7 linked regions of the Homo sapiens genome follow. The protein of the gene in region 1 interacts with the protein of each later gene in a pairwise test. Each region holds a gene or a part of one and is shown on either strand. Other genes may lie near its edges. The genes, in order: ECPAS, ANKRD17, UBE2G2, MYO10, RAB11FIP4, KIF5B and MYH10.

What was found.
Region 2: the proteins of ECPAS (region 1) and ANKRD17 interact in a two-hybrid assay, tested with the Homo sapiens proteins (one large-scale study listed by BioGRID).
Region 3: the proteins of ECPAS (region 1) and UBE2G2 interact in a two-hybrid assay, tested with the Homo sapiens proteins (one large-scale study listed by BioGRID).
Region 4: the proteins of ECPAS (region 1) and MYO10 interact in a two-hybrid assay, tested with the Homo sapiens proteins (one large-scale study listed by BioGRID).
Region 5: the proteins of ECPAS (region 1) and RAB11FIP4 interact in a two-hybrid assay, tested with the Homo sapiens proteins (one large-scale study listed by BioGRID).
Region 6: the proteins of ECPAS (region 1) and KIF5B interact in a two-hybrid assay, tested with the Homo sapiens proteins (one large-scale study listed by BioGRID).
Region 7: the proteins of ECPAS (region 1) and MYH10 interact in a two-hybrid assay, tested with the Homo sapiens proteins (one large-scale study listed by BioGRID).

What each region holds. Positions count from the first base shown.
Region 1 is NC_000009.12:111,473,691-111,478,126, forward strand, and holds part of ECPAS (proteasome adapter and scaffold protein ECM29), read right to left. Parts: intron 1-4,436. UniProt on the Homo sapiens protein: Adapter/scaffolding protein that binds to the 26S proteasome, motor proteins and other compartment specific proteins. May couple the proteasome to different compartments including endosome, endoplasmic reticulum and centrosome.
Region 2 is NC_000004.12:73,136,366-73,140,801, reverse strand, and holds part of ANKRD17 (ankyrin repeat domain-containing protein 17), read left to right. Parts: intron 1-518; coding exon 519-1,271; intron 1,272-4,436.
Region 3 is NC_000021.9:44,794,881-44,799,316, reverse strand, and holds part of UBE2G2 (ubiquitin-conjugating enzyme E2 G2), read left to right. Parts: intron 1-4,436. UniProt on the Homo sapiens protein: Accepts ubiquitin from the E1 complex and catalyzes its covalent attachment to other proteins. In vitro catalyzes 'Lys-48'-linked polyubiquitination. Involved in endoplasmic reticulum-associated degradation (ERAD).
Region 4 is NC_000005.10:16,698,424-16,702,859, forward strand, and holds part of MYO10 (unconventional myosin-X), read right to left. Parts: intron 4,166-4,436; coding exon 4,120-4,165; intron 3,416-4,119; coding exon 2,540-3,415; intron 1,151-2,539; coding exon 1,027-1,150; intron 1-1,026. UniProt on the Homo sapiens protein: Myosins are actin-based motor molecules with ATPase activity. Unconventional myosins serve in intracellular movements. MYO10 binds to actin filaments and actin bundles and functions as a plus end-directed motor.
Region 5 is NC_000017.11:31,527,029-31,531,464, forward strand, and holds part of RAB11FIP4 (rab11 family-interacting protein 4), read left to right. Parts: intron 1-813; coding exon 814-895; intron 896-1,377; coding exon 1,378-1,515; intron 1,516-1,591; coding exon 1,592-1,750; intron 1,751-3,297; coding exon 3,298-3,441; intron 3,442-4,436. UniProt on the Homo sapiens protein: Acts as a regulator of endocytic traffic by participating in membrane delivery. Required for the abscission step in cytokinesis, possibly by acting as an 'address tag' delivering recycling endosome membranes to the cleavage furrow during late cytokinesis.
Region 6 is NC_000010.11:32,032,108-32,036,543, forward strand, and holds part of KIF5B (kinesin-1 heavy chain), read right to left. Parts: intron 3,888-4,436; coding exon 3,783-3,887; intron 3,561-3,782; coding exon 3,415-3,560; intron 2,732-3,414; coding exon 2,583-2,731; intron 1,932-2,582; coding exon 1,738-1,931; intron 668-1,737; coding exon 599-667; intron 1-598. UniProt on the Homo sapiens protein: Microtubule-dependent motor required for normal distribution of mitochondria and lysosomes. Can induce formation of neurite-like membrane protrusions in non-neuronal cells in a ZFYVE27-dependent manner.
Region 7 is NC_000017.11:8,473,450-8,477,885, forward strand, and holds the end of MYH10 (myosin-10), read right to left. Parts: intron 3,600-4,436; coding exon 3,427-3,599; intron 2,500-3,426; coding exon 2,355-2,499; 3' UTR 775-2,354; downstream 1-774. UniProt on the Homo sapiens protein: Cellular myosin that appears to play a role in cytokinesis, cell shape, and specialized functions such as secretion and capping. Involved with LARP6 in the stabilization of type I collagen mRNAs for CO1A1 and CO1A2.

The sequences.
Region 1 (4,436 bases):
GCACGGTGGCTCACGCCTGTAATCCCAGCACTCTGAGAGGCCGAGGAGGGCAGATTGCTTGAGTACAGGAATTTGAGACCAGCCTGGGCAACATAGCCAAACCCCGTCTCTACAGAAAATACAAAAATTAGCCAGGGATGGTGGTACCCGCCTGCAGTCCCAGCTACTCAGGAGGCTGAGGTCAGAAGATGGATTGAGACCAGGAAATTGTGGCTGCAGTGAGCCGAAATCACACCACTGTACTTCAGCCTGGGTGACAGAGAGAGACCCTGTCTCAATAAAAAAGAAAAGAAAAGAAAAAAATCTTGTAAGTTTTATTATCTCATTTTACAGATGAGAAAACCGAGGCCTACAAGTTAGGTCCCTTGTTCAAGAACACATTAAGAAGTATCAGAATCAGGATTCAAAACTGTCTCTGATTCCAGTTCCAGAGGTTTTAGCCACTACTCAAAGCAGTCTCCCTGAACAACATGGGGGCTCAATAATTCAACCCATTCATTCAACAAATAATCTTTCTGCTGAACACAGACTACCTATCTGTTGAATCTGTTCTCTCTTTCCTTCACTTTCCTAAATCTGTCTAGAGGCTACACTCTCTGTTACTCCTCCACCTTCTAGTCTCAGGTCAGATTTAGATTCATCTCTAACTCCTCCCTTCTTCAACAACCCTCATCTCGTCAGCCAACAATTTCTCCCTATTTTAGGGATTTTACATTATATTAACTCCTTGCCAAATCCACTTCCACTGTCCCAACTCAGACCCTAAGTTTCTTTTTACTTGGCCATTGTGATACCCTCCTAATTAGTCTTGCTGCTCTTGATCTCCGGATCCTTGCAATCAGTGTTACACCAATGCCACCTGTTACCCGTACAAAACAGACCTACTCATGTTACGCTCCTGCTTAAAAGCTCTGATGGTTCTCTACTGTCTACAGAACAAAGTCCAAACTAGTTCTGTTGGCATTCCTACAACATGCTGGTCCCAACCTATCTCCACAGCATCATCTGCTATTACATCCCACACCAAAAATAATAATAATTTATAAGAGCTTAAGTGTTTACACAGTACATTTTCACATACATTAATCCTAACAATACTATGAGTGAATCTTGTCATTCCAATTTTATGAGGAAGAAACTGAGACTTGCAAAGGTAAGGTAATTTGTCCAAGATCTCAAATCATAAAGGCAGCATGGGCCAAGTCTCAAACCACACAGCTGATCCCCTTTCCCAGTACTTCACACAGCCGTAGCACCCCCATTCCCATCATAACAGACTTACTCAGCTTTTTTTGTTTTGCATAATATTTCCCTATCTCCAAGTCTCAGCTCAAGCTATTTTTCCTTTAGCCTCAAATACCATTCTCATTTCTTGAGGTTTCCAAAGAACTGTGTTAGGCAGTTTACTTACCGTGCTTTGTGTATGTTATTTACATTTGCACATAAATCTGTCTCTGCACTGAATTATAAGCCCTCTGAGGACAGCACCATACATTATTTACTCAATTTTAAAAGTCTGCTTATTGAATTGAAAAAATACATGGGCAAAACAAGCCATATAAAATGGGAAGCATCAAGGCCAGGTCTGAAACGAGAGCTCAGCAACAGGGATCAAACCATCTGAGAACACTGGCAGTGACTTCAATTTTAACATCTATCTTCTGAACAAGGTCAATGCTCCTGTGCCAACTATTCTCACTGACAATGGCCTTGATCACATATTATAGTTTACTGAAAGCATAATTCAAAACAGAATGTGGTGGGCCAGGTGCAGTGGCTCAAGCCAATAATCCCAGCACTTTGGGAGGCCGAGGCAGGCAGATCACTTGAGGTCAGGAGTTCAAGACCAGCCTGGCCAACATTGTGAAACCCCATCTGTACTAAAAATACAAAAATTAGCCAGTTGTGATGGTGCACGCCTTGTAGTCCCAGCTACTCAGGAGGCTGAGACAGGAGAATCACTTGAACCTGGGAGGCAGAGGTTGCAATGAGCCAAGATTGTGCCTCTGTACTCCAGCCTGAGTGACAGAGTGAGACTCTAGTTTCAAAAAAAAAAAAAACCCAGAATGCAGTGAAAGTAAAAAAATCAGAATGGAAATTAATAAAAAATAGAAATATCCGTGGTCATTTTTCCATCTTAACTTTCCTATTTGGTTAAGTAACTAAAATTTAAATGATACAGGCTTGCCTTGGCCTTTCTACAAAGATCAGCTTGGAAGCCTGTATTCTGGTCATTTAAGCAATTAGCTCTTAGGGGCTATTTCAGTATGGTCACAGAATCATGTTCAACACACAGCTTCCCAAATCTCATCCTCTAAAAGAGCTACCAGGATTCCCAGCACTAGCAGAGGCTCTCTCAGAAGACACCTGACATGCTGATTATCTGGCCAACTTTTGCAACTGAAGTTTCCCATGGCTATGTCAAATGGTCAAATTGAATAGTGCATCCTTCAAGATTATAGGCTGTTGCTCCTTCATGAGTTGCCTTTATCCCAACGAAGATCAGATTCTAAGGATGCCTTATAATTATAAAGCCCAGAATACGAAACCACTAAACAGCTGACCAGGTGAAAAGTCTCAAATGCTTCCTTCCCTGTTGGAAATCTCTCAACCCACTCCTGAAATATTAACTATAATGTCAACTTTTCCATAAAGTGGCAGAAGATAGTATTAGCAGAAAAACTAGCCACATGTCTTGCATTGAATTTCATTTCATTTGCAATAGTTATAATCACTCTAAGCATAAGGAAAGAAAGCTACAGGCTCTGACCTAAACTAATTTACAAACTAGATTTCAGAACTGCCTTTAACAGTCAAAACTAATGGTTTTCTTTTTTGGCAACATACCCAAAAATCTACTATGTTCTGTTCAGTAACATCAGAATTTTTTTTTTTTTTTTTTTTTTTTGAGATGGAGTTTCACTCTAGTTGCCCAGGCTGGAGGGCAATGATGCAATCTCAGCTCACCACAACCTCCGCCTCCCGGGTTCAAGTGGGAGTCTCACTCTGTCACCCAGGCTGGAGTGCAGTGGCACAATCTTGGCTCACTGCAATCTCTGCCTCCCAGGTTCAAGTGATTCTCCTGCCTCAGCCTCCTGAGTAGCTGGAACTACAGGCGTGTGCCACCACAACCAGCTAATTTTTGTATTTTCAGTAGAGACAGGGTTTCACAATGTTGGCCAGGCTAGTCTTGAACTCCTGACCTCAAACCTCAGGAACTCTAAACCTCAGCTTCCCAAGTAGCTGGGATTACAGGCATGCGCCACCAGGTCTGCCTAATTTTGTATTTTTAGTAGAGATGGGGTTTCTCCATGTTGGTCAGGCTGGTCTCGAACTCCCAACGTCAGGTGATCCACCTGCCTCAGCCTCCCAAAGTGCTGGGATTACAGGCGTGAGCCACCGCGCCTGGTCCTTTTTTCTTTTTTTTCTTTTTTTTGAGATGGAGTCTAGCTCTGTCACCCAGGCTAGAGTGCAGTGGTGCGTTCTCAGCTCACTGCATCCTCCAGTTCCCAGGTTCAAGCAATTCTCCTGCCTCAGCCTCCCAAGAAGCTGGGACTACAGGTGCACGTCCCAACACCCGGCTAATTTTTTTGTATTTTTAGTAGAGACGGGGGTTTCATCATGTTGGCCAGGCTGGTCTTGAACTCCTGCTCTCAACTTATCCCCCAGCCTCGGCCTCCCAGAGTGCTGGGATTACAGGTGTGAGGCACCGCTCCAGCCCTGATTGCCACATCTTATACACTACAGAAGGTTCTTTCTGGATACTGCGCCTGGCCCCGATTGCCACATTTTATACACTACAGAAGGTTCTCTCTGGATACTAGTTAGACACACACACACACACAAAAAGCCATTTTGATCTTGTTATGAACTATATATTCTCCCATGCAGGACAGGAATAACACAGTAGTAGTAGGGCAGAATTAATACAAATTTTGCAATCAGAGAATCTAAGTTCAAGTCCTAACTGTCTAATGAGGGTAGCTCTACCCCTGAGACAGTACCAGTACCAAACTCACAGGGTTGTTCTGAGGATTCAATTAGTTGATACATGCAAAACAATTAGAACACACGGTAAACACACAATAAATAAACAGCTTTACTATTCTTCTATTATAATCACTGACTCAAACATGAGGTTTGTGAAAGGATAACAAATGCTAACAATAACAAGTCTCACCCCAAAATTAACCTGCCTATTTTTGGCAACTTTTTTTTTTTTTTTTTTGAAACAAGGTCTCGCTTTGTCACCCAGGCTAGAGTGCAGTGGTGTGATCTCAGCTCACTGCAGTCTTGACTTCCTGGGTGCAAGCCATCCTCCCCACTCAGCCTCCCAAGTAGCTGGGACTACAGGCGCATGCCAACACACCCAGCTAATTTTTATATTTTTTGTAGTAACAGGGTTTCACCATGTTGCCCAGGCTGGTCTCGAACTC
Region 2 (4,436 bases), on another chromosome or scaffold:
TATTTTACTCAGATTTTAATTTCTTGTTACTTCTTAGTGGTTTGGGTACTTTTTGTGTGTATGTGTGTGTGTTTAAAAGGCACAGACTATGAAATGTGAAAAAACCTGACTTAGAGGTCTGTTTCCTCTTCACCCTAATAATTTAGCATTATTGTTCTGTTCTTATGATGAGTTTTAACATCTTTATGACCATATAAAATATCTACACATAGCCTTAGATGTTACTTTAATTGCACACTTAGATATCACAAACCTGCATTCCTCTATTGTCTAATTTAAGCCATGTGCTATTTTTAAGATTCTGAAATTAATTTACAAAGATTTTGCACATAAAATACATACATTTTATATTTGTGAAAAAGAAGGTGGATTTGTTTTTAATTTTTTAACAGTGCATTTTCACCTGTTATGGATATGATTACTTAGTGCATAACTGTTGGCACTAAACCTCCCAACAGTAACTCTGTAATGAGGATGCCATTCATGTGCACTTCTGAGGGGGTTTCTTTTTCACACAGCTGCTTCTAAACAAAAGTCCAGCAGCCATTTGCCAGCAAACAGCCAGGATGTACAGGGTTACATCACCAATCAGTCTCCAGAGAGCATTGTAGAAGAGGCTCAGGGAAAGTTAACAGAACTGGAACAGAGGATAAAAGAAGCCATAGAAAAGAATGCACAGCTGCAGTCCTTGGAACTGGCTCATGCTGACCAACTTACCAAGGAGAAGATCGAGGAGCTCAACAAAACAAGGGAGGAACAAATTCAGAAGAAACAAAAGATTTTGGAGGAACTACAGAAAGTAGAACGAGAGTTACAACTGAAAACTCAGCAGCAGCTAAAAAAGCAGTATCTAGAGGTTAAAGCTCAAAGAATTCAACTTCAGCAACAGCAGCAACAGTCTTGCCAACACCTGGGATTACTAACTCCTGTTGGAGTTGGAGAGCAGCTTTCTGAGGGAGACTATGCACGGTTACAGCAAGTGGATCCTGTTTTACTTAAAGATGAACCCCAGCAGACTGCTGCTCAGATGGGTTTTGCGCCAATCCAGCCTCTGGCGATGCCTCAAGCTTTGCCTCTGGCGGCAGGTCCCTTGCCTCCAGGGTCCATCGCAAATCTTACAGAACTGCAAGGAGTGATAGTTGGACAGCCAGTACTGGGCCAAGCACAGTTGGCAGGGCTGGGGCAAGGAATTCTGACAGAAACACAACAAGGGTTAATGGTAGCCAGCCCTGCTCAGACCCTCAATGACACGCTGGATGACATCATGGCAGGTGGGTTTATATTGTTATGAGCAGGTATCAAATATGATTTGCTTAAGGCGAGTAAGAATGTACCCAAATTTTTTGCCGTTACCCAACTTGAGAACTATTTTTGGACTGACTCATGTCTAGCTTTAGAAGTATTAGTTCAATCTCAGAAGTTCTCAGATGGATACAGGTCAAATTAAAGATTAGCTCATTCAGTACAAATGACTGAAGCTTTCTGGCTTAGCTTGGTAGCTTGAGAATCTAGGTTTTTCAGTAGTGGGGTTGATGTTTGATTTTTGTTTTTGTTTTCATTTTTTTCCTTTAAGTTCAGAATACTGAGATTGAATTTTGGCATTTTGCTTCTGTATTCACACCAATAAACTGGGAAATTGATAGAAGTTGAAGTGCAAAACTAGTAGGACACATCAGGAAGCTTATTTATGAACAGAAATACTTTATATCCTAATGGATCAGACTTCAAACCTGATGGATATTTAAAAAAAAAAACACTTTTACAAAATTAATAAAGTTCAAAACCAAATAGGGTTTAATTATACTGTATGTAAGTGATTTTGTCCCCTGTGAATGTTAATGTGTAGTCTCTTTCTAACTGTATCATGAGAAGGTGTGGCCCCCCTGAAAGTATCATAAATGATATATTTTTAGATGTGTAGCCAGATAAATTTTATTCGATTATAACTAGTTTCATTGACAAGAAGATACACTTTAGAAGACTGTTTTTATGCTTCTAGTTTTTGGTACTTATTTTTTGTGTTTTGTAACAAAGTAATGGGATGAGGTTTTATAGGGTTGTGAACCATAAGAATGCTGTACTGAGAAGGATAATTTGCTTCATTAAAAAAAGAAAATTTGAAAAGGAAGGAAAACAGAAAAATGAAAGGAATAAACAGTGGAATTTTGGTGACTTCCATCTGATCTCTTCCCCTTTTTTATTCATTCATCTGTACTTAGAGGATGATTGACTTTTTCTAATTTAAAAACTGTTTCAGTAGCATTAAATATGATGAGCTTATTTTTTTTTAAGTTTCATCTTTTAAATGGATAATAGGAAACTAAACTGTATAGTGTTTAGATATTTAGGTAACGTTCAGACACTAAGAATCCAGCTGAGATAGATTTTATACTTAAAAATATCTGTAAAGTTTGCTAGTCCGCCTTTAATAGCACCTCAGTAGTTATAACATGTGGAATGAAAATTTCTGCTAGTCTTAAGGGTTAAATAACCACATTGGAAAAATGCTAGTAATAATTACTAGTAAGAATTGTACGACTCTTATTGATGAGTGCAAAATTTTTCTATAGATTTGAAAGTCACTACTAATCATGACTAGCTGATTATAATAATTGAGAGTAAACTTTTAAAATTATTAAATATCCTGTGAAAGTTGGAGCACAGTAACCATTAACCCTAAATTTGATACTATGTCCATATGAATTCAGATCATAATAGTGCTCTATCATGTGAAACTACTAAAGGATGTATAGAGTTAAATATTACGTATCCACTTTAATGAAGAATAGGTATTACACAGTAATGGTTGTTTAAAAAAATTTTTTTTATATAATATCAGAGTTTACCTGATGTGCTTGGGCATGCATAGTTGTCAACAATGATTTGCTAGTTGTACAGTTTTGTATGCTGATCAGAATTATCAGAAGTTTGTAAAGTATCTTTTCTTTTGATTCATACATGAAACAAAAACAATTCTGTGTATTCTCAGTGTTCTGTATAAAAAAATTTTAAGTGCATATAACTTTTTAGGAAATATGACAGATGCTTGTCATAATACAAAAATATTTTACTTTTTTATTATGCTCATTTCTATGGGGAGAGAAACATAGCCAGAAGGAGGAAGAGTAGGATTGAAAACATTTGGCTACTTACCTGCAACTCATCCCTGACAACAGGCATGTGCACATTCACACACATGCACATATACTCATGCACTGACTTTTGCAGCCTCAATCTTAAATTTCTGTGGTAGGATGTATCCTTTCAGTTGCTTAATGATGATTTCCACTTCTTTCTTAGGGGTTTAAAGTATATTACAGCCTCATTAGTCTCATCGTCTTCTTTTCCTCCCTCTAGCACAGTCCCTGCTCTTTATTTCTTAGGCTTCATTTATTAGACTTCTACCATAAAATTTGCTGACCAAAATCGTCTGTCTTTCCTGTTCTTCACACTTGCCAAACCAGAATCAGCTCCCTGTTTAACCTGTCTCAACACCTTGCCTTTGCTATCATTTCAAGTTCCCTTTTTTCTATGCTGACATTAAAACTTTTCTGATGTGTGGTTCTCCCTCTCTAAATCTAACACTAAAATGAAGCCCCACATGTAAAGATTTTTACCAGAGTTCCTTCAGGTACCTACATATTTTACATTTGTTTCTTTTAGTTGTAGAGAATGGATGTGTGATTGACAGTCACCTAATTTTAGTAAACCAATTTTATAGGTACCCCGAAGGAAATGATGAGATAATTGATTTTTCCTGTCTCCTTTTAGATGAGGTGATAAGAACAACCAATTTGACTTAAAAAAAAAAAAAAAAAAAACTCTGTAATTTTGGTAGGTTCTTTAAAAGAAAATATTCCAGTTGAAATGTAAATTATAATTTAGTCATTTAACAATAAAACTTAGATTTTTTTTAACCTGTTTAGTATTATGAAATAAAATTTAGTGATTCGGACAGACTGGTGTTCATCCTGTTTAAGCTACTTTTTGTATTTAGCAGTTTTATTGTGAAAATCCAATCAAAGGAGATATGGAATCAATTTAAAGAGCTCTAGATTTTATATGATTTTGAAATGTATATCAACAATATGTACATTTAAATTATCTTGATCTTTTCGTAACATACAAAACTATCAATATGGAGTAACAATATCCAGATCGCTAGATTATCAATTTAATATATTAGTATATGCCCTTTTCTATTGGTCTGGATCCCTAAGGATTCAAACAGTGTTTTGTTTTGTTTTGTTTTGTTTTCTCCTTCGTTTTTCCTTTGGCTTTTAAGTGGACTTAAAAATGTATAATTATAGAATGTGTGTTGCTATAATGTATAGTGTATGTTTGTGCCTGAACTAAGGATTTCATGTAAAATAGATTTCTTAATTCATAATTATGTTTATAATTGTTATAATAAGATCAATTTCAGTTTTATTCTT
Region 3 (4,436 bases), on another chromosome or scaffold:
ATGACTGGCTTCAAAGGACAGGGCGACTCTTGTTAGGGGCTAATGTCGGTCACTTTAAGTTGACTGAGTTGAAGCCAGTTCTCATTTATCATTCAGAAAATCTTAGGGCCCTTAAAAATTATGCTAAATCTACTCTGAGCTCTAGAGATGGAAAAACAACCTGGATGACAGCACATCTGTGTACAGCATGGTTTACTGAATATAAGCCCACTGTTGAGACCTACTGCTCAGAAAAAAAGATTATCTTCAAAATACTATTCCTGACAGTGCACCTGGTCACTCAAGAGCTCTGATGGAGAGGTATAAGGAGATAAATGTTTTTGTGCCTGCTAACACAACACCAATTCTGCAGCCCATGGATCCGGGAGCACTTTTGACTTATTTAAGAAATACATTTCATAAGGCCATAGCTGCCATGAAAAGTGATTTCTTTGATGGATCTGGGCAAAGAAAATCAAAAGTCTTCTGGAAAGGATTTATCATTCTAGATGGCATTAAGAACATCTGTGATTCATGGGAGGTCACCATATCAACAACAGGCGTTTGAAAAAGTTGATTTCAATGCTCATGGATGACTTTAAGGGGAGGAAGCAACTGCAGGTGTGGTAGAAATGGCAAGGGAACTGGAATTAGAGGTGGAGCCTGAAGATGTCACTCAGTTGCTACAATCTCATGATCAAACTTGAACAGATGGGGAGTTGAGTCTTACAGATGAGCAAAGAAGTGATTCTTGAGATGGAATCTACTCCTGGTGAAAATGCTGTGAACATTGTTGAAATGACAAAAGATTGAGACTATTCCATAAATTTAGTTGATAAAGCAGCCGCAGGGTTTGAGGGTATTGACTCCAGTTTTGACTGAAGTTCCACTGTGGGTAAAGTGCTGTCAAACAACATCACAGACTACAGAGCAATCTTTTGTGAAAGTAAGAGTCAGTCCCTGTGGCAAACTTAATTGTTGTCTTATTTTCAGAAACTACCACAGCCACTCCTGCCTTCAGCAACTACCACCCTGATCAGTCAGCAGTCATCAATATCCGGGCAAGACTGCACCGGCAAAAAGATTATGACCTGCTGAAGGCTCATATGATTGTTAGCATTTTTTAGCAATAAAAATTAAGCATATTTTGGCAAATAATAATTATTTATTTATTTATTTTTTGAGACAGGGTCTTGCTCTGTCACCCAGGTTGGAGTGCAGTGGCACAACCACAGCTCATTGCAAGCCTTGACCTGGGCTCAAGCTATCCTTTCACTTAATCCACCTGAGTAGCTGAGACTACAGGCATGTGCCCCTACACCTGGCTGATTTTTCTGTCTTCATCTTGACCTCCCTCTATGTTGTCAGGGTTTGGCGAAAGTGACTCCATTTTGATTCTGACAATGTTCATACTCGAACAGAGGGTTGGATGTGGGGGACTATTACTTCTGTGTCCTCATGGGAAACCTGGCTGGTGGGTCAGATGTGTGAACACCTACCATTTCTTGGTATCCTGGTTTGTGTTTGTGTCTCTGTTTTAGTTTTATTTTAGCCCTATTTCTAGGGTTAGGCTAGACTGTGAGCAGGTATTTTCTCTTTTTTTTTTTTTTTTTTTTTTTTTTTGAGACGGAGTTTTGCTCTGTCGCCCAGGCTGGAGTGCAGTGGCGCAATCTTGACTCACTGCAGGCTCCGCCTCCCGGGTTCATGCCATTCTCCTGCCTCAGCCTCCCGTGTAGCTGGGACTACAGGCGCGCGCCACCATGCCCGGCTAATTTTTGTATTGTTAGTAGAGACGGGGTTTCACCGTGTTAGCCAGGATGGTCTCGATCTCCTGACCTCGTGATCCGCCAGCCTCGGCCTCCCAAAGTGCTGGGATTACAGGCGTGAGCCACCACGCCCGGCCTTCTCATTTTTATTGAGAAGAAAATCATTAAACCCCTGCATAGGAAATTAAGTTCAGGCTGCTGCTTCAGGCCAGTCTTTGCATTGTTGAACTTGCATTTTCTAAGGATATTTGCATTAGCAAAGATATGTTCTCCCTTTTATTGTCCTGACAGAAGCTTCATCTGTTATTTCAATTATATTGTCAATTAGTTTGCAGTAATAAGACCTAAATAATGGTTGATTTCCGAAGGTTTGTCACGGAAGTGTGTTGTGTGTTTTTACATGTTAACATGAAATTTTGGACTATGTGTAGAAGGTAGAACTCTAAACATACCTCACTAAGATTCCCATGCCCTTGTTATTCAAGCACTTTCTAGTACTTCGGTGGAGGGACTTTGGAGATGCAAGTCAGGTTAGTAATCAGCAGACCTAAAGAGTGGGAGATTATTCTGGATTACCGTGAAGGATCCAATAATAACATAAGGCTCAAAAGCAGTCAGTGAAGGCAGGATGGGGGTGGTCAGAGAGATTCAACATATGACAAGATCTCTACCTTCTGTGGCTGGCTGTGAAGATGGAAGAAGGAGCCATGACCTAAGGAAGGCGGGCAGCCTCAAGAAGCTGAGAATGATCCCAGACCAACAGACCCGTGGAAGTGAATTCTGTCAGCAACCTCAATGAACTTGGAGTGGCAGCCCTGGTGAGACTCTGAGCAGAGAACTAGCTGGCCCATGCTGTGTCCAGACTTCTGACGCTTGGAAACTCTGAGATCATCAATGAGTATTGTTTTAAATCACTAAATTTGTGGTAATTTGTTACAGCAGTGACAGAAGATGAATACAGTGTGTTATTGAGGGGACTTTGTTTTTCCTGTATCTTAATAATGTGATAAAATTTAGTGGGTTTTTTTTGTGTATCATTTACTGGTTTTTTTTGTGTGTGTATCTTAACATCTAGTTTGTCCTCATAACGTATTTTAAGGTAGCACATTCCAGTGTAAAGGTGGACTTGACAGAATCAATCTCTACATAGAAGGGGTTTAGATAAATTTGGTTAGATGTTCATGCACACTTTATTGTATTTGGGAGTAGTCATATAACTGCAGAAATTCAGAGGTGGTGGGACCTTGGCTATGATTCTGTTCAAGCCCCCTAATTTTACAGATTTTATGGAATTGAGCAACAGACAAGATGATTTTGCCTAGGTTCATAAACAGGAAAAAAGGAGAGCCAGGAAAGAACTCAATTGTTGTAAACTGCTGTCTTGTCTTGATGTTCTGTCTTCATTCATCATCCAGCCTTTCCTAGGAGTGTCAGAGATAGACCCAGGTAGAAGTGGGCTGCCCATGGGGGGCTTAGCACAACAGAAATTTATTCTTTTACTGTTCTGGAGGCCAGACATCTAAAATAAAGGTGTTGATGGGGTCATTCTTCCTCTTGAGGGCTCGAGGGGAGAACCCTTACTTGCCTCTTCCAGCTAATGGTGATTGTTGGTCATCCTTGGCGTTTATTGTCATTCTCTTGCTTGAGGTAGTGTAATTCTAATCTCTGCCTCCATCTTCGCATGGCCATCTTCCCCCTGTGTGCATGTCCTAAATGTACATGTCTTTCTGTGGATATATGCTTTTATTTCTCCTGTGTAAATAACCAGGGTTATAATGGGAAGTGTGTGTTTAATTTTTAAAGAAACGGCCAGTTTTCCTCTAGTTCACATTTCCCTAGCAGTGTATTAAGTGTTCCCGTTGCCCCACCTCCTTGCTGACACTTCGCGTGGCCAGTTGTTTTTTGTTTTCTTTTTTCTTTCTTTCTTTCTTTTTTTTTTTGAGACAGGTTCTCACTCTGTCACTCGGGCTAGAGTGCAGTGGTGTAGTCATGGCTCATGGCAGCCTCTGCCTCCTAGGCTCAAGCAATCCTGCCACCTCAGCCTCCCAAGAAGCTGGGATTACAGTTGCATGCCACCTCGCTTAGCTAATTTTTGTATTTTTAGTAGAGATAGGGTTTCGCCATGTTGCCCAGGCTTGTCTCGAACTCGTGGGCCCAAGCAATCTGCCCGTCTTGGCCTTCCAAAGTGTTGGAATTACAACTGCGAGCCACTGCGCCCTTCCAGTTTTAAAAATTTTAGCCATTCTATTGGGTGTATAGCAGTCTTACTGAGGTTTTGTTTTATTTATTTATTTTTTTTTATTTTTTATTTTTGAGGTGCTCTCTCTGTCATCCAGGCTGGAGTGCAGTGGCATGATCTCAGCTCACTGCAACATCTGCCTCCTGGCTTCAAGTAATTCTCCTGCCTCAGCTTCCCAAGTAGCTGGGGCTATAGGCGCGTGCCACCACACCTGGCTAATTTTTGTATTTTTAGTAGAAACGGGATTTCACTATGTTGGCTAGGCTGGTCTCTAACTCCTGACCTCAGGAGTTTGCCTCGCCTCCCAAAGTGCTGGGATTTACGGGCATGAGCCACAGCCCCCGGCCCTTACTGAGGTTTTCATTTGCATTTCCATAAGACTCGTGATGTTGAGCATCATTTCACGTGTTTATTTGCCATCCATATGTCTTTTTAGATAAAGTGACTTGAGT
Region 4 (4,436 bases), on another chromosome or scaffold:
AAGGCCCCTAAGTGTTAAGGTTCAGCAAAGTATACTCAAATGTTAGTAACAATCAAAGCATACAATGCAAATGCTCATCATGAAGTAGGTATGGTGAGCAGTTCAAGCCAGCAGTGGGCCTCAGTGAGATCTTCACTTTCCCCCATGTCTAGCACATCCTTTTAGGCTCTCTAATATCCCTGGCAGGAGAGAACATGCAGTTTTTTTTTTTTTTTTTTGAGACAGCGTCTGGCTCTGTCGCCCAGGCTGGGGTGCAGTGGCGCGATCTCGGCTCACTGCAAGCTCCGCCTCCTGGGTTCACGCCATTCTCCTGCCTCAGCCTCTCAGGTAGCTGGCACTACAGGAGCCCGCCACCGCTCCCGGCTAATTTTTTGTATTTTTAGTAGAGACGGCGTTTCACTGTGTTAGCCAGGATGGTCTCGATCTCCTGACCTCATGATCCACCCGCCTCGGCCTCCCAAAGTGCTGGGATTACAGGCGTGAGCCACCACGCCCGGCCGAGAACATGCAGTTTATCATGAGAATGGGTCTCGACCAATTCCAGCAGCAGCAGCAACACACACATTGGTTTGTATGTCTGTATATATGAGAGAGAGCAATGAGACTGAGACAGAGAGGGAGACAGTGAAAGAGAAAGTGGGAGAGAGAGGGAGAGAAAATAGAAGGATGAAGAAAGAGCTAAGAAAGGAAAACGAGACAGGGAGAGACAGGGGAGAAGGACTGATACTGGAGGCAGTGGTTGCAAATGCTTCGTCCTGCCACTCTGCACCAAACCAGGGGAGTCACGACTGTGTTCATGCTGGTAGGACCACAGCACCCATGTCACACCAACATGACAAGGTGTCCCTTCATTCATCTAAGTGGCCCAACACTGAGGTAAGGGTAGGTAGAACGACTTTCCCAGTCCCCATCCATCAGCCCAGATACAATAACACCTCCGTTATTTCCCACCGCCATCCATCAGCCCGGATAAAATAACGCCTCGCTCTCCCCCTAACCCAGACTCCATGGCGGCTGCAGTCATACCTTTCATGTACAGAAAGCTGTGGAAATACGGCAGAGTGACACAGCTGTACACAGAGTCACGCCGGTATGAAAGCTCATCATCTGTATCAAACCTGGAATCAAAGTCCTCTTCACTATCTTCAAACTGGACCGAGAGAGAGAAGCCAACGGTGAGGGAAAAGGCCACAAAGCAAGCCACGAAGATACCCAGCATGTATCATCATTGAAAAAATACAAAAATACAGCTACTCAAGAGGCTGAGGCAGCAGAATCACTCGAACCCAGGAGGCAGTGACTGCACTGAGCAGAGATCGTGCCACTGCACTCCAGCCTGGGCAACAGAGCAAGCCTCAGTCTCAAAAAAAAAAAAAAAAAAAAAGGGAAAAGGAAAAAGAAAAAAAACAACTGACAAGCAATACGCCTGATTTACGGTAGCACACAAATAATTCGGAATTAAAAATACCAACTTTTAAGGTCAAATGGTCAGTTGAATTGATACATGAAAGACAAGATATACTTGAATCCAAAGGCTATCTGCCCTAAAACTAACAATGCTTTTTAAGGCTATAATTTTAATCAAACCATGCAAGAGTTCACCCCCTCTGAATTACTATATTAAATATATTTTCAAATCTTTGAAAGTCAAGAGAACATTCAATGCACGACCAAAGCGACAAAATAAAAGTAAACTACAGATAAATCCAGAAACTGGAAAAGAGTACATTTAAGCCCTGCAGCTTCTTCCTTTACAGCCACTATAAGAAATAACATCGTGTGGTTTGGATTGTGAAGTTAGTACAAGGAAAGTTTGCCAGTTCACCCCTGGCAAGTCTTGTTCCAGTTCAGGATGTGTCTTCATTTCCTAACGCAGCACGGCAAAGCTAAAAGTTCCATTCAAATTGTAAAAAAAGGGAAGGAAGAAATAAAATAAAATAAACAAAAGTTCCATTTAAAAAGCCAGTTTTAAGCCGGGCATGGTGGCTCACGCCTGTAATCCCAGCACTTTGGGGGTCCGAGGCAGGTGGATCACCTGAGGTCAGGAGTTCAAGACCAGCCTGGCCAACATGGTAAAACCCCATCTCTACTAAAAATACAAAAATTAGACCGGTGTGCTGGCGGGCATCTGTAATCCCAGCTATTCAGGAAGCTGAGGCAGCAGGATAGCTTGGACCCGAGAGGTGGGGACTGCAGTGAGGCAAAATCCTGCCAATGCACTCCAGCCTGGATGACAGAGAAGACTCCACCTCAAAAACAACAACAACAACAATAAATAAATAAATAGCCAGTTTTCTGAAGTCTTGGGCACAGCTCAGCTCTAGGCTTTGTGCTAAAACTGAAACAGGCACATCAAAGTTCTACTTATGAATGCAATTGGCTTATGGAATAAGCAAAAGGTTTAAGATGATCTCTAAGACCACGACTCTGCAATCTTTGCACAGATATCCTACGGGTATCTTCATTCAACTTGAGGATGCAACAGGGGTGGGTGTGACCGGCCACCCATTTCACTGGGACACGCCAGGCAGGTACTTACCGAGGACTGCGCCCCCTCAGAGCTGAACCGGTAGGCACCCGAGCTGTTGTAGGTCCCCACAGAGCAGCGGTAGTCGGGGGACCACTGGCTGCCGTAGGAGTTGGAGAAGGTCACGCTGCTGCCGGAAGTGATGGCACCGTCCTCATAGTCATCCTGGTCGTAGTCGTAGTCGCCGTCTGGGGAGGGCAAGTCCCCAGCGTTCTGGGGCATGCAGTAGGTGGACTCGCCGCTGGAGGAGTTGTGTAGGCTCCCGGAGTCCTGCACTGATGGGGCGAGCAGCACCGTGCTGTCCGCACTGGGGCTGGTGGGCACCACCGTGTCGTTCATGTATGGGTCCTCCTCTGAAGAGTCATCGCTGGTCCGGATGCCACTTGTTCGCTGGTCTGAGTGGCCGTGCTCGCTGGGGTTGGGGGAGTCCTTGAAGGCGTCGTCGTCGGCTTCGAAGCCCTCATCGACCTCCTCCTCTGGGTAGGGCTGGCTGAAGTTGAAGTTGGGCTTCTCCTCGCATGCGCTCTCAGCCAGCTCGCTGGAAAATTCGCTTCCCACCGACAGGGACCGCTCGATATTCCGGACACACTCGTCGATCTCGTCGAAATTGAGGGACTCGAGGAACTCCTGGGCCGCCCTGCACGCTTCCTCCTCCAGCCTGCGGAGCTCCTGGTCCCGCCGCTCCTGCAGCTTCTGCAGGGAAGCCTCGGTCAGCGACAGCTCCTGCTGCTCCTTCATGCGCTGCAGGTCCTCGATTTCTTTCTCCAGACGGAGGATCTCTTCCACCTGCTTATTTTCCTTCTGTTTCTCCAGTTCACGGGTCAGTTCAGCTTCCTTCTGGCTCTTCTGCAAGGCTTCGAGTTCTTGCTGCTTCCTCGTTTCTTCTTCCTGGACAGAAGCAGAAGGGAGATTTCAGAAGGCTTCAGTACAAAAGTCCAAGCATAGCTCCCGCTTTGCAACCAGGATGAAATATGGTCATTATGAGTTGGACTGTGTCCCCATAAAGTCTATAGGTTGAAGTCCTAACCCCAATACTGCAGAATGTGACTGCATTTGGAGATACAGCTTTTAAAGGGGAGACTAAGTTAAAATGAGTTCACTAGGGTGGGCCCCAATCCAAGATGACTGGTGTCCTTTTGGGAACAGGAGACTAGGTCACACAGAGAAAAAAGGCTGCGTGAGGACACACTGGACAGACGGCCACCTGCAAGCCAAGGGGAGGGGCCTCAGAAGACATCAAACTTAAGGATAACTTGATCTTGCAGTTCCGGCCTCCAGAGCTGGGAGAAAATCAGTTTCCACTGTTCAATCCACCAGTCTGTGGTATTTGGCTGTGGTGGGCCTAGCAAACTAACACGCTGGTTATACCGATTTAGAGAAATTATACTCTTGTGATGCACACTAAAACCTCAGCCATTCACTACGCTTTACCCAATTGTAATAGGTCAGAAATTGGATCATAAACACATCCTCTTAAATTGTTCTTCCTGTTATCTTTCTACTTTAATTCAGTTTTGAATCCTAGAGTCCAAGCATTAGAAGTGGGAAGGAAGTAGAAACACAAGAGGCTAAGTTGTCACTGCACTCATTACCTGCTGGGCGCGGAGCTCGGCTTCTCTTCGCTCTCTCTCTCTTTCTCTAAAAATAGTAAAGGAAAAGTGAAAATCAACAACAATAACCCTGGAACCACTTTTCAGAGAGATCTACGTTTTTAAAACAGCTTTGCCAAAGACAGAAAGCATGAAAGACAGAGCCCCTTCCTCTGGCCATGGATTTATTCTGTATGAATAAAAATATTCACAGAACTGGGTCTTTAATGCTGCCAAGGAATTTTATATTCTAGCCACCTAGAGTTACTGTTTCAAATTGTAGGTTCTGGGGCATCTGCTGGGATTTCTGGCTGCACAGA
Region 5 (4,436 bases), on another chromosome or scaffold:
GATTATTACTGTCAGAGCCCATGCCTGTGGTCATCAGAGGGAGGTGCAGTGAGCGCTCAGAGAAGAGCCCTGGATGAGATGCTGTTGGCGGAGAATGAAAAGCCAATATGATCATTGCCTTCAAGTTACAGAGTCTAACAGGAGGGCCCAGTCACAGAAGCCACAAGAAGACTGTTTCTCCATCTAGCAGAAAGACATCCCCGTGTTGTCTGAGGATCTGAAGGATGCATACAAGAAGAATCTGCGTTCCTACTCTCTAATGAATGTTTCCACTTATTGGAAAAATAAAGGCCACGTGTGGTGGCTCACTCTTGTAATCCCAACACTTTGGGAGGCCAAGGTGGGCGGATCACATGAGGCCAGGAGTTTTTGAGACCAGCCTGGCCAACATGGCAAAACCCGTCTCTACTAAAAATACACAAATTAGCTAGGCGTGGTGGTGCATGCCTCTAATCCCAGCTATTCAGGAGGCTGAGGCACGAGAATTGCTGAAGGAGTTAGAGGTTGCAGAGCTGAGATTGTGCCACCTCACTCCAGCCTGGGCAACAGAGCAGGACTCTGTCTCAAAAAAAAAAGAAAGAAAATAAGAATGATAATTTACTATTTTGCTTACAAATAGTCCTTACTATTTTGCTTTGGCTGATAGGAAGCTCACGGCTAAATTGTCTTTGACATAATAATCATATTCTTTCTCTCAGTTGGTTTCTGGTATCTTTCCTCTGGGAGGAAGCAGAGAATCACTGCAGACTGGCAGGCGCTTATCAGATAGTCTACATTCCAGGTTTCTGAGATTTGTCTTTCTCCTTTCGCCAGGGTGCAGCAGTTGGAGGAAGAAAATACAGAGCTTAGAACAACAGTGACTCGGCTCAAGTCTCAAACAGAGAAACTGGATGAGGTGAGCAGCAGATCCAGGCTTGGAGGGGCAGGGCTGGCCATCGGGAGCCTTTAGTTTATTGCTTCTGAAATTCTAAACAAATGCCGCACCCCCTAAGAAATGCAAAAAAAGTGAATAACAACTTGTGTTTCTGTATTTCTGATTTTCCAAGTTTTCTACAGCGAATGTATTTATTACTTTATACAATGGAGAAAAATTAGTTTTAGAAAGAGGTTAGCTTCTATTTGGGCTAACACCTTCAATTCAGGTTGCATCTAGCATCGTTGAAGGACTTCAGAGGCCTGAGGTTTTTAGTTGTATTTCTAGAATCATCGGGGCTCTGGCCGTTTCTGTAAGCCAAGACTCAGGGCTCCGTCTAAGGGAGCTGGTTTCACTGTGCATCTGCCTCGTGAAGATGGCTGACCAGACCCCAGGGACACCCCTGGACATAGTGAGCCCCTCTCTGGGAACTCTCCTCCCCTGATCGGGTCTCCCTGCTCCAGGAGCGGCAGCGCATGTCTGACCGTCTGGAGGACACCAGCCTGCGGCTCAAAGATGAGATGGACCTGTACAAGCGCATGATGGACAAGCTGCGACAGAACCGCCTTGAGTTCCAGAAGGAGCGGGAGGCGACGCAGGAGGTAGGTCCCAGGCCAGCAGGCACCAGGGCTCCTTCCAGCATCCCTGCTCCTGCCAACCTGCTTCTCTCCCTCGCAGCTCATCGAGGACTTGCGGAAGGAGCTGGAGCACCTGCAGATGTACAAGCTGGACTGCGAGCGGCCAGGCAGGGGCCGCAGTGCCTCCTCTGGCCTAGGCGAGTTCAATGCCAGGGCCCGCGAGGTGGAGCTCGAGCACGAGGTCAAGCGGCTCAAGCAGGTGGGTCTAGCAGTCTCTGTGTCCAGTGGGGCAGGGTGGCCGGGCCCACCACGTGGGTTTCCTGTGCAGGATCTGTGGTAGGGGAGCCCAGAGCTGTAGCAGCACTGCCTGTCTGCTTCTCAGCAACCTGTTTGCCAGGGCTGACTGCCCCATTTCACAGCTCAGGAAAATCGATCCAAAGATCTCTCCCTTACGTCTATGTAAGGAAATAGACCCTGCCTTGGTGCTCAGGGTGGAGGATGAGACCATACCCAGCTGCAGTATAGTGCCTGGAGGCATTGGGTTCTCCCAGAAGTAGACCCTCACCCAAGGTTCCTTTTTTTTTTTTTTTTTCCCAAGAGACAGGGTCTTGCTCTGATACCCAGGCTGGAGTGCTTTGGCACTCCATAGCTCACTGCAGCCTTGAATTCCTGGGCTCAGGTGATCCTTCTGCCTCAGTCTCCCTAGTAACTAGGACTACAGGCACACACCACCATGCCCAGCTAATGTTGTTTTTGTTTTTTGAGGCAGGGTCTCACTGTGTTGCCCAGGGTGGAGGGCAGTGGTGTGATCACAGTCACTATGGCCTCAAATTCCTGGGCTCAAGCAATTCTCCTACCTCAGCCTCTCGAGCAGTTAGGACTACAGGAGAGCACCACCACACCTGGCTAATTTACTTATTTATGTATTTATTTCCAGAGATGGGGTCTCCCTATATTGCCCAGGCTTGAACTCCTGGGCTCAAGGGATCCTCCCACCCTTAGTCTTTGAAAGTGTTGGGATTACAGGAATGAGCCACTGTGCCTAGCCAGAAGATTACATTTCAAGGAGCGCTGCCTTAGCTAGAGACCTTTGGGTGGGGGAGTGGATCAGGAGGAGGCAGTGGCCAGGTGGTGCTGGGTGAAGTGTCAGCTCTGCCTGACCCTGCAGGTGGAAGAGCCTGCAGCATAAATTATCCTTCTGAGTTTGTTCCACTGGGGACAAAGGTGCTGGTGGCTGTGCTCTCACAGAAATCCTAAAACCCCAACCCTTCTCCTAGTCTAGGGGTGGGGTGCCCAGGGTCCCAGGTGTGAGCATTAGGGCTCTTTAGGCAAAAGCTGGAGTGTGAGACCGGTGCATGGGATCTGGGCGGGTCCGCCTGGGTCAACTCCAACCAAGCAGGATTCGGAACGTGGCTGCTGGGGGAGCCAAGGAAATGAGCTGGCCAGCCTGCCCAGAGAGCCCAGAGCATCACTTCCTTCACTGGGCTGCTGGGTGGGTGATGTCCCTATGCAGGGCCTAGGGAGGAAGGGATGGCCAGGAGCCTTGGCTGCGCTGAGCAGGGCTGTAACTCCTCCACAAACCCTGTGCACTCCCAGGATGCCAGTCCCCTGGACCAGGACCCAGCCCTCCTTGCCCCCAGCGCTTGGCAAAGGCTGCAACATCTATGGCCCCTTGAACCAGCCGTGACACACACCTGTGGGAATGGCGCTGGCGGCAGGTCGGGGACGGTGGATGTGGAGAAGTGGGTTCCAGTGGGCTGTGGATGCCTCTTGGGGTTGATGTCGCCTTCGTCCTTCTCTCTGTAGGAGAATTATAAGCTGCGGGATCAGAACGACGACTTGAATGGGCAGATTTTGAGCCTCAGCCTCTACGAAGCAAAAAACCTCTTTGCTGCCCAGACTAAAGCCCAGTCTCTGGCTGCGGAGATAGACACCGCCTCGCGCGATGAGGTAACCACACCACCGGCTCTTGCTTTGGGGCCTGGCCGCCCTCTGTGATTCCTTCTCCCGGCCCCCACCTGCCCAGAGTGAGAAAACCAGACCAGGGCCTGGCAGAGAGTCCCATCTACAGCTACCCCACATGACAGGGCAAGGCTGTGAGCAGGGGAGGGGGCTGCTGGAGAAGTTAAGTCAGCTCTGAGTTCCGCCTGTGCTGGAAGGAGTGCGGGTTTGGTTCAGAGTGGAGTGTGAGTCTTAGGTCGGCCAGAAAAATGCCAACATAGCCAGCTGAGTGGATCAAGCTGTGACTCTGGGTTAGGCTATCACTCCCGCTCTTCCCAGTCCAGAGAGGGAGGACATTAGCATTTCCCCAGCACCTGCTTCTGCGGTGTGTTTTCACTTAATCTCCTGATGACTCTGAGGCTTTAGGAACAGCTCCACATTCCAAGCTGGGAAGGTGGAACCCAGGACCACCCAGCTAGGGAGGGAGAGGGACCCAGCTCTCTCCAAAGCCAAAGCCTACCCTTCCTGCCACACCAGAGTATGCTTATGAAAGATCAGGCCTCCAAAATGCCCCGGCTGCATTGTAACATGAATTACAAGACACTCTGTCACTGAGCCTCACCCTCTGCCTGGGACACGGGGTGAAGAGCTGACCTCTGTCCTCAAGGAGCTCCCAGGTGAGCTGGGCCCCAACCCCTGGGCAGAGGCAGCATGTCAGCAATGTCCGAAAGAACACTGCCCTGGAGAAGAGCAGTGTGGGGCTGGGGGTGGGGAGAGGTGTTCCAGGCAGGAGACAGCTCCCCTTTGGAGTCTTAGCGGCCCTGGGACTTTGTCAGTCTTGATTTTAAATGACTTTGGCTAGTGTTTTCTACTTTTGCAAAAAATTACCCACACCTGGGCCCCCTCTACAAACTGATCACATTGGAATCTCTGGGGGTGGGGCCTGGGCACCTGCATAGGTAATACTAGGGGCTGAGCCACTTCGACTCTGGTCCTGGCATCCA
Region 6 (4,436 bases), on another chromosome or scaffold:
GGGATATCCGGAAATCTGTGGGAGTGTTAATAATAGGGTAGAATGCTAATGGCATTTAGGAGTAGGGACCAGGAATGTTTAATGTCCTATAATACAAAGGACAGAATAACATAAATTATCCAATGCAAAATATCAATAGTGCCCCTTTGAGGAATAATGCTATAGTTGAAATATGAAATGCTATAGTTGAAAGATGATCTGACCAGGATTAAGTTCACTGATGGAGAGTATCTCTTTCTTACCGAAGCAGTCTTTGTCTTCACCCTGCCCACCACCCCCACAAAAAAATTTAAAGGACTGCTTTTCAATTATCCCCCTGCTCTGCTGGGTGAGAAGATAAAATGAGGATCCAAAGTAAGTGACAAGAAGAGAAATGTCAAGAACCAGGGTGAAAAAAAAGATGGCGGAAATGAACAACAGATTGTATCTGGGTAGATACGATGAATAAGTAAAAATTCACTTTATCCATGTGACATTCTTATTCCCACAAAGACAGTCATACCCAAAATTATACAACTATTAAAGACAAAGTCAATGGGATTCAGAAAACAAAACTATAAAGCTTTTCTGGAAGCAATGTAAAAGGTATTCAACTCACCTCCTCCTGATCCAACATTTGCGTCTTCAGTTTCTCTACCAGTTGACTTTGCTGGTTAATTTCTTCATCCTAGAATTGTGAAGTATCCGGTTAACCAGTAGCTAACAACCTGGTTCTAGTTGTTTCCCAATACAGGTTATAAGATTACTACTCCCCAGAAATATTTCAAAACCATTTCTCTAAATTCAACATTGCTTATTTTAATCTCTTTTAAGAAAATGGCAAAACAAAAGGAATTTCTTTCAATTATCAATACTTATAATGGTCATGTACTTCGAACCTGCCATCTCTGCTTAAAATATATTAAAAATATCAACTTAAGAAAATATTTTCTTCTAATCTCTTTACTACTCTTGTTCTTGCCTTCCATTCTATTACGTTCTTAGTTTGCTATTATTCATACTATTGACATTACTTCTATATGCAAAGCAGGAAGATATTATTTCCACTCTATTGTGTTTCCCTTAATCTCTCACATCATCTTTTATTGGAGTCTTCAGAGCCCTGATTCTAACAATTGGTATCATTGAGGCTCCCAATGACCCAATGCCAAATTTTCATTAGAACAGGGGTCCCCAAGCCCCCAGGCCACAAAGCAGTACTGGAAGCCTGTTAGGAACCAAGAAGCACAGCAGGAGGTGAGCAGCAAGCATTACCACTTGAGCTCCGCCTTCTGCCAGATCAGCAGCATTAGAATATCATTAAGAGCGCGAACTCTATTATCAGCTGTGCATGCAAGAGATCTAGGTTAGAGGATCCTTATGAGAATCTAATGCCTGATAATCCAAGGTGGAAGTTTCATCCCAAAACCATCTCCCCGACCTGATCCACGGAAAAACTGTCTTCCCTGAAACCAGTCCCTGGTGCCAAAAAGGTTGGGGACTGCTGCCTTATAAAGTTCTTTTAGCTTAAAAAGAGGGGGAAGAAAAGATACATGCTCATACAGTTTCCACACAGAAATTGAAATTATGACTTTTTATTTTGTTAATACAATAATTTTTACAAGATTAACAGAAATCAAGGAAGATGCATAAAGATCCTAAGTGCCCACAGCACTGAAATGAGAAAAGTTAGAAAATAAAAACACCCATGTCAATAGTATCCTAATATAAAGCAGACCTAAATCAAGCAATACCTACCTTGTCATCAAGCTGTTTGTATAATTTAGCAATTTCTTCTTCACACTTTCTTCTTTCAGCATCAGTAAAATTTCCTATAACTCCAATTGCGGTTGCTGGTTTATCATTGGTAAGAGTAATATCTTTATCCACTGTGAAAGCTTCCAAGTTGGCTTTCTCTTTGTCAAACTGTTCATCAATAGGCACCGTCTCCCCTAAAATAAGAAAATAAAGTGGTTAATAAAAAAACGACGTCTAAAGCTAATTTCAATTTCATTCCTTTAAAAATTTTTTTTTTTTTTTTTGAGACAGAGTCTCAATCTGTCACCCTGGCTGGAGTGCAGTGGTGCAATCTAGGCTCACTGCAACCTCTGCCTCCAGGGTTCAAGCAATTCTACTGCCTCAAGACTCCTGATTAGCTGGGATTACAGGCGCTCAGCACCATGCCAGGCTAATTTTGGTGTTTTCAGTAGAGATGGGGTTTCAACATGTTGGCCAGGCTGGTCTCTAACTCCTGACCTCAAGTGATCTGCCCACCTTGGCCTCCCAAAGTGCTAGGATTACAGGCATGAGCCAGTGCACCCAGCCTCGTTCTTTCAAACTTTTTCTTCTCTGTGTTATTTTCAAATAATCTGTCTTCAAGTTCAGATTCTTCTGCTTAATTAATTCTACTACTGATGGTCTCTTGCATTTTGCTCATTTTATTTTTCAGCTCCAGGATTTCTATTAATTTTTTTAAAAATTATTTCGATGTCTATTAAATTTCTTGATCTAGTCACTTACTGATTTTGCTGAACTATTTCTACGTTTCTATGCTCTAAATCTGTATTTAACAAACTGAAGATGACAAATTCTTAAGTTATTACCATTACGCCATCTGTTGAGCTCATTTTCAAGCCACTGAATAGTGTTCCGCAGGATCTTATTTTTTTCTTTTTCTTTTTCATACTTCTTTTTCCACTGTTCTGCAGTTAACTCCACATTGACACAAACTGTGTTCTTAATTGTTTTGGCCCTAAGAGATGTAATTGGAGGAAAAAAAGGATGAGACTGAAATTATTTTTAATTTTATCTATATGGAATATATGTATATATGGCTAAGAAACTTATGCTTGTCCAGTAATCTCTTAGACTAAATACTAAAAGCCGCAACATATGACGTTATTTACAACTCAACTAAATTTGAGTCTGCTCCAAAATCTGTGAATAGCTTTAAAAAAAAAAAAATCAACAAACCACTAAAAATAAAAGACAAAGGCCTATATTTTTCCAATTTGTTTGCAAGGCTGAATTAAGAAATTACTGTTGAAAGTCAAAGACGGAATCATCATTACTGATTTTCCTAATCATCTCATACAGATTATATTAACCTGTCATGCATGTCTACAGGCTTAACAGAGGATTATGTTTGCCAGGCTTTGACCTCATTATTTGATTCAAATGCTTATTTTCTTTAATACCAAATTACAGCTTGTCACACAAATTTGACTAAAATTACATCTGACTTTAATGTGTACTAAAACTTAAACCAAGCAGTCTAAAAATCAGACCCACCTTGTATTATCTGTCATCAATTCAAACTGAGTGTGTCTAGCACAAAACAGTATGTACAGGTTGGAATAACAGCTCACATTTTCCTACATTTTATAAACAAAAGGTCTATCTAAATTTAGGTTTTGTACTTTCTTAACAACAAACCTTTGGCCAAATAAGAGTGTAGATTTTGTTTCAGACTCATTGTATGATGATGGAGAGCAGCAAATTACAATAGTGGTTCTACAGTTGCCACCTAATGAATCTTGAAGGATTCTTGTCATTTTACTATCTCGATATGGAACATATGTCTGCATACAAAAACAAAGAAAGAAAACAAGACCAGTATAATAAAATGTTATTATAAAATAAACTCCCAAAAGACAACTAACTTACACATACTGATTCAAACACATTGAATCTCAATCTCTCTTTCTCTCTCTCTCTCTCATACACACCCAGGCACACATATACACCTATATTTAAATAATGCCCCATAAGGTAACAGGGAGATAGAAGACATGTATACTCACACTACCCTCAGCCAAAGCAGAAATAACATTTCCAAGAGCAGAAAGTGACTTGTTGATGTTTTTAGCTTCATCCAGCACAGCACCTTCAGCTCCAGTTTTACTAACCTATACATAAGATTTCAAAAGAATGAAACAAAATTACAAGTTTATAATTTTCTTTACATTTTCTAAAATGTTCATATGTCATCAATAACCAGTAAAAAAGAAAAAAGAACATGAAAAGCTTCATGATCTTATTTGCCAAGCATACCACCATTTCTTGAGTACTACTCTTAAGAGTTTGATTAGAGAGACATCAAATTTTATCTGTAGTTTGTAGGTACTCTTGAAAATAACCAATTTAAATGTAAATTTGTAGTTCATTAATCTGTTAGTCCCCTTTGCTACATTAGAAAACAGGAACCTTCTAAAATTGGCTAATGCATAATGTTGATGTTGTAACTGTTAGAAAACAGAGACTGAGTTTTAAACACATTATATAAGCAAATCTGCTTCTTTTAAAAATATATAAAATATCTAAATATCTATGTTGTGGTGTTTTTTTTTTGGAGACTGAGTCTCACTCTGTCACCCAGGCTGGAGTGCAGTGGCTTGATCCCAGCTCACTGCAACCTCCGCTTCCCGGGTTCAACCAATTCTCCTGCCTCAGCCTCC
Region 7 (4,436 bases), on another chromosome or scaffold:
GTGCCGGGATTACAGGCGTGAGCACCATGCCCAGCCCAGAGTTCTTACTTTTTGAGAAAAACAAGCCTCTGAATTCTGTACACTCTTGGATAAGATACTGGATGTGGGGGTGGGAGCCCTGCTGAAGCACCATACCTGTGACTCACCTTTCCTCTCCTATGGTAGTGGCACAGGAGGAAGAGGGCACTTCGGCCCATTTCACACGTTTCTACTGCTGCCAAGAAGCCTAGTCATAGACCCCTTACCCCCAGAACCAGTCTAACCGGAGAATATTATGGAACAAGAAATCGGCATTCTCTGTTTGATTCTGTGCTGCCCTAGTATTTCTCTCATCCTAGTTGGCCCGCACTAGAGAGGCTGCCCTTGGCCTCATCACTGAATCCTCCAAAAGCATCTTCAATGCGTGTCTGCCTGAAAATGCAGCCTGAAATGTCCTGGACCCCTGAAAATGTCCTAACCCAGCAGTGAGCTTCATTGGCTGGTGACCAGAGCCCTCCTAAATCACTCCCTTGACAGGTGGGCCAGCTCCTGCCTTTGGGTGGTCTTTCCCTTCCTAGTGCGTGTGCATCCTGTGAGGCACTGGCAGGAACAAGAGTTGGAGCCAGGACTGGCCTGAGAATTATTCTGTCGTCTGACCTGGGAGACAGCGCCCTCAGCAAAAAGGGCCTGGCGCCATCATTTGAAGTTGGTGTGTAGCACCCACCCTCCAGTCAGATCACAGATGGGAAATCGAGAACAGAAGGTGAGAAAACAGATTCCACGTTCACATGATTATTCTTGTTTATTGAGGTCTCTTTATTCTCCACGGGTGCTTTTTTCTTCAAGTAAACAGAGCAGGCGCAAATATCTATAATGAATAAATTTATTGTCTTACAAAAATCATTGTCTAGAAATATGGGAATACAAGAAAAGATATTTGCGGTCAGGTGTCTGGTGGTCAACAGCCAGTACAGTTCATAAAGGGGGAAAATCCAAGATTCCAAACCCACAGGACAAATTCTTCCTAATAGATGTTAAAGCTTTTAACCCAAAAGGTTTGTGTTTTCAAGCACATTGCAGAGGATCAAGGATTTAGAATTAACACTGATTCATTGTCACTGAATGTCTGTAATACCACTTTGACTAGAGAGGTACATGATATGAAGCACAGTCAAAACTGAATACATTAAATTGTTATAGAGGCGAATGATATATTCAACATTGTCTTAGTACTGTAGTGTCTAAGGCACTTTCCGTAATGTCAGTTTGCTTAACTACCAACCAAAAACAGGATGCTAAGTGTTCACTGTAACACTGTCCAAAGGGAAGGGAGAAGGAAAAATGAAGGAGTCACACCCACTGGCATGTCAACATTCAGGAAGATGGCATCTGTTCTGGAGGCTCCATAAACCTCATTGACAAACTTGGAACAAGCCTCGGACACAAAACCAATATTCCCATTTTGGGCTCAAAGCAGCGGCTGAATTTGCAAGGTCAGCATGAGGGCCCGGCTGGCGATGGGGAGGGGCCTTCCACCAGCTCGGCTTAGGGGTCCACGGCTGCTTGCTCCTGACGTGAGGAGGGCGCCGGCAGAGCCAGGCGGTTCGGGAGACCATCTGGAAGTCTACATGATCCATGGCTGCCACCTGGGGCCTCAGCTGCAGTGTGGCCACTATCCCTTCTATGCACAGACCAGCCCTCGCCAAGGCCAGTTCACATGAGTAGATGCGGGACACCATCGACTCGAGGGGCAGGGCCCCCCTTGGGGGATGGACATGGTAACCCCAAATGGGTGTTGCTTCCGATCCAGCCCACCCCTCCTACTCTTTCCAAAGCCCCTTTCACAGTTTGCTCACTGAAATAGCATTGATCATTATTTGAAGGAAATGAGAGAGACAAGTGCAGTTTAGAGTCCACAGTGGTCTAGGAGACTTGATGTGGCTGAGGAGTCGGGGGCCACGTGAACACAGAACTAGGTTACCTGTCTGTATGACAGAGAGCATGCAGAGCGACTGAGTGACGACCACGGCGCTGCCCCAATAACCCAGCGACCCGCAACCAAGGGCCTGGAGTTTGTTTTAAAAAGGGTCTTACCATGTTTTATAAAATGGTCTCTTGATGACTATATGGAAAATAGATGCAATGATGAAACAATCTGTTTAATATATGTGTCCTGTGTGTGTCTATATATAAAAAGGGGAGCAATTGTACCTAAGTCTGAAGCAGGATACAGTATGCATAGGCTGGAGAGCCTTAAGACACAGTTGATCTTTCAGGAAGGAATCCCGTAGCTTGCCAATTTCCGAAATCTGCAGGAGGCCCCGGGTGCATTCCTAACTGTCCCACTGTATTGCCTCCTCTGGCTTCCTGCAACTTTACTCTGACTGGGGTGGCTGCGTCTCGTTGACATCACTGGTCTTACTTTCTGTGTCATCGTCGGAGAGCTCCAGGGAAGCTCCTTCAAGGTGCAGCTGGCGCCGGCCAGATCGGCTGGAAGAGAAGCTGATGGGGCCACCCCGCCTGGAGAACACAGGAAGCAGATGTGTGTGGGTAAACAGACAGGAGCACATGGCTGTCAATATGTTCAACCACTCAATGCCACGGAACCTTCCCCTTGCACCCCCTCCTCGGACACACGACCTTGTGGGGGTGGCGGTACGATGGGGAAGGACTGCGTGCTTTTCTGCCTCTCCCACAACCCTGCCTGCAGAGTACGCGAAGCAGGGTCCTTGGAGAACTGGGGAGGACTTGATTCAGCCTAGGACTGTGTGATGGAAATGGTAAGGAAGACGGATTAAGGCCAAGCTCTACCTGCTAACCAGGGAATCAGCCAGATAGCAAAGTGGGCCACATAGGGACTCTGTTGCATATTCTTTGTTTCGGCGTTTTTATAACCATTTAAAAATGTAGAAACCATGCTTAGTTTGATGGCTGTATAAAAGCAGGGTATGCACCAAATCTGCCCATTGGCCAGATGTGCTGAAACCTCCGCCGACCTGGTCTTCTGGGGCAGAGACTTCAGCTGTAGCTCTCTCACGCTCTGCCCTCTCACTGGTACAGAGCAGATCCATTGTGGTGAGGAGGACGGTGCTGAGGAGGGCTGATGGCACCAGGTCCCAGGAGGAGCTCCTGCCCTGCTTTTTAAGAGAGGCTGGGAGCTCACTTCACTAATGGATATCTGGACAGGGATGGATGCCTGACCCAGCTCCAGCCTGGTGTGGTGGATTAGTGTGGTCCTCTAGTGACTGGCAATGAATAGGGCCGCCTCCTCTTTTATTCTCCCCAAGGACGACTATAAAGGTCAGAAATCTTAAATGAAGTGGTTCGGGAGAAAGAATGGGTCACTGGGTATGGATCTAAGTAAACTTCCTCTGACCAGCTGCACCCCGAGCCTAAGCTAACCCACAAAGCAGCTGCCTGTCAGCTCGGGGCCGCATGCCTGCTCACCTCAGCCGGTTCTTCAGGGTGCTGACCTCGCGGCTCAGGCCCTCGTTGGCCTCGGTGGCATCATCCAGTTCCCGCTGGAGTTTACGCCGAGATGCGTTGGCACGCGTCGCTTCTTCTTCTGCTTCCTCCAGCTGGCGTTTAAGCTGCTTCATCCGAGCGTTGGCCTTCTCCATCTTGGGGAGGGTACATGAACCAAAACAAACCAAACTGGTGAATCCAGTGTCGGCCTCTCTGTACCCCGAGCGTGGCAGTGTGGGGCTCTGCCTGTTACCCTTGTGAGCACGCGTGTACACGGATGTACACGCGTGCCTGGGGGCTGGTCGGAGGCTCTGTAACCGGCCTGCCGCTCTCAGCAAAGCTAGCATCTACAAAGCACACTAGGCCAAAAGAAATGAAAAAGTACTCAAGACTCTGTTTTTACCAGTGAGTTTTCTGCAGAAAAATGACAGCGTTTACTGTCTTCACACACGTGACCTAGGGGACTGAAAGGGAATTGCTATTCTTGCAAAACGTGGAAGAACCAGCAATGTGGGACAATCCCCAGCCCAGAAGATGGTACAATGCATCTTTACACCTCCTTTCAAGGATGGGCATCTCAGATACTAGACTTGGATTCAAGCAGAAAGCCACCCTGGGATGACATGCCACAGAACTAAGAGCCTCCCTTTTGGACCCTTCATTCCTGAGCCACACAGGCACTGGTCAGTGCTTCGTGGGTCCAGCGCACACCACCCTCAACTGTGCTCCGTGTTGCTAGGCCCCAAGGGTGGGGGTGGGAAGGGAAGGCCAGGTTGCCTGACTGAATGAATGAAGTTGGGGAGGGTTCGGGCCAAAGGCAGTGAAATCCTCAGATCCATCCACCTTTCTGGCCAGTGTCTGCAGTGTGAAGTCTCACCAGGCAGAGGGCAGGGAGCGGGAGGGAGGGTATAGCTGCCCACGCTGCAATCAGGGCAGGCCTGACCCACAGTTCAAAGTCCTGCGGAACATTCCCTGTGTACTTAGAAAAGGGG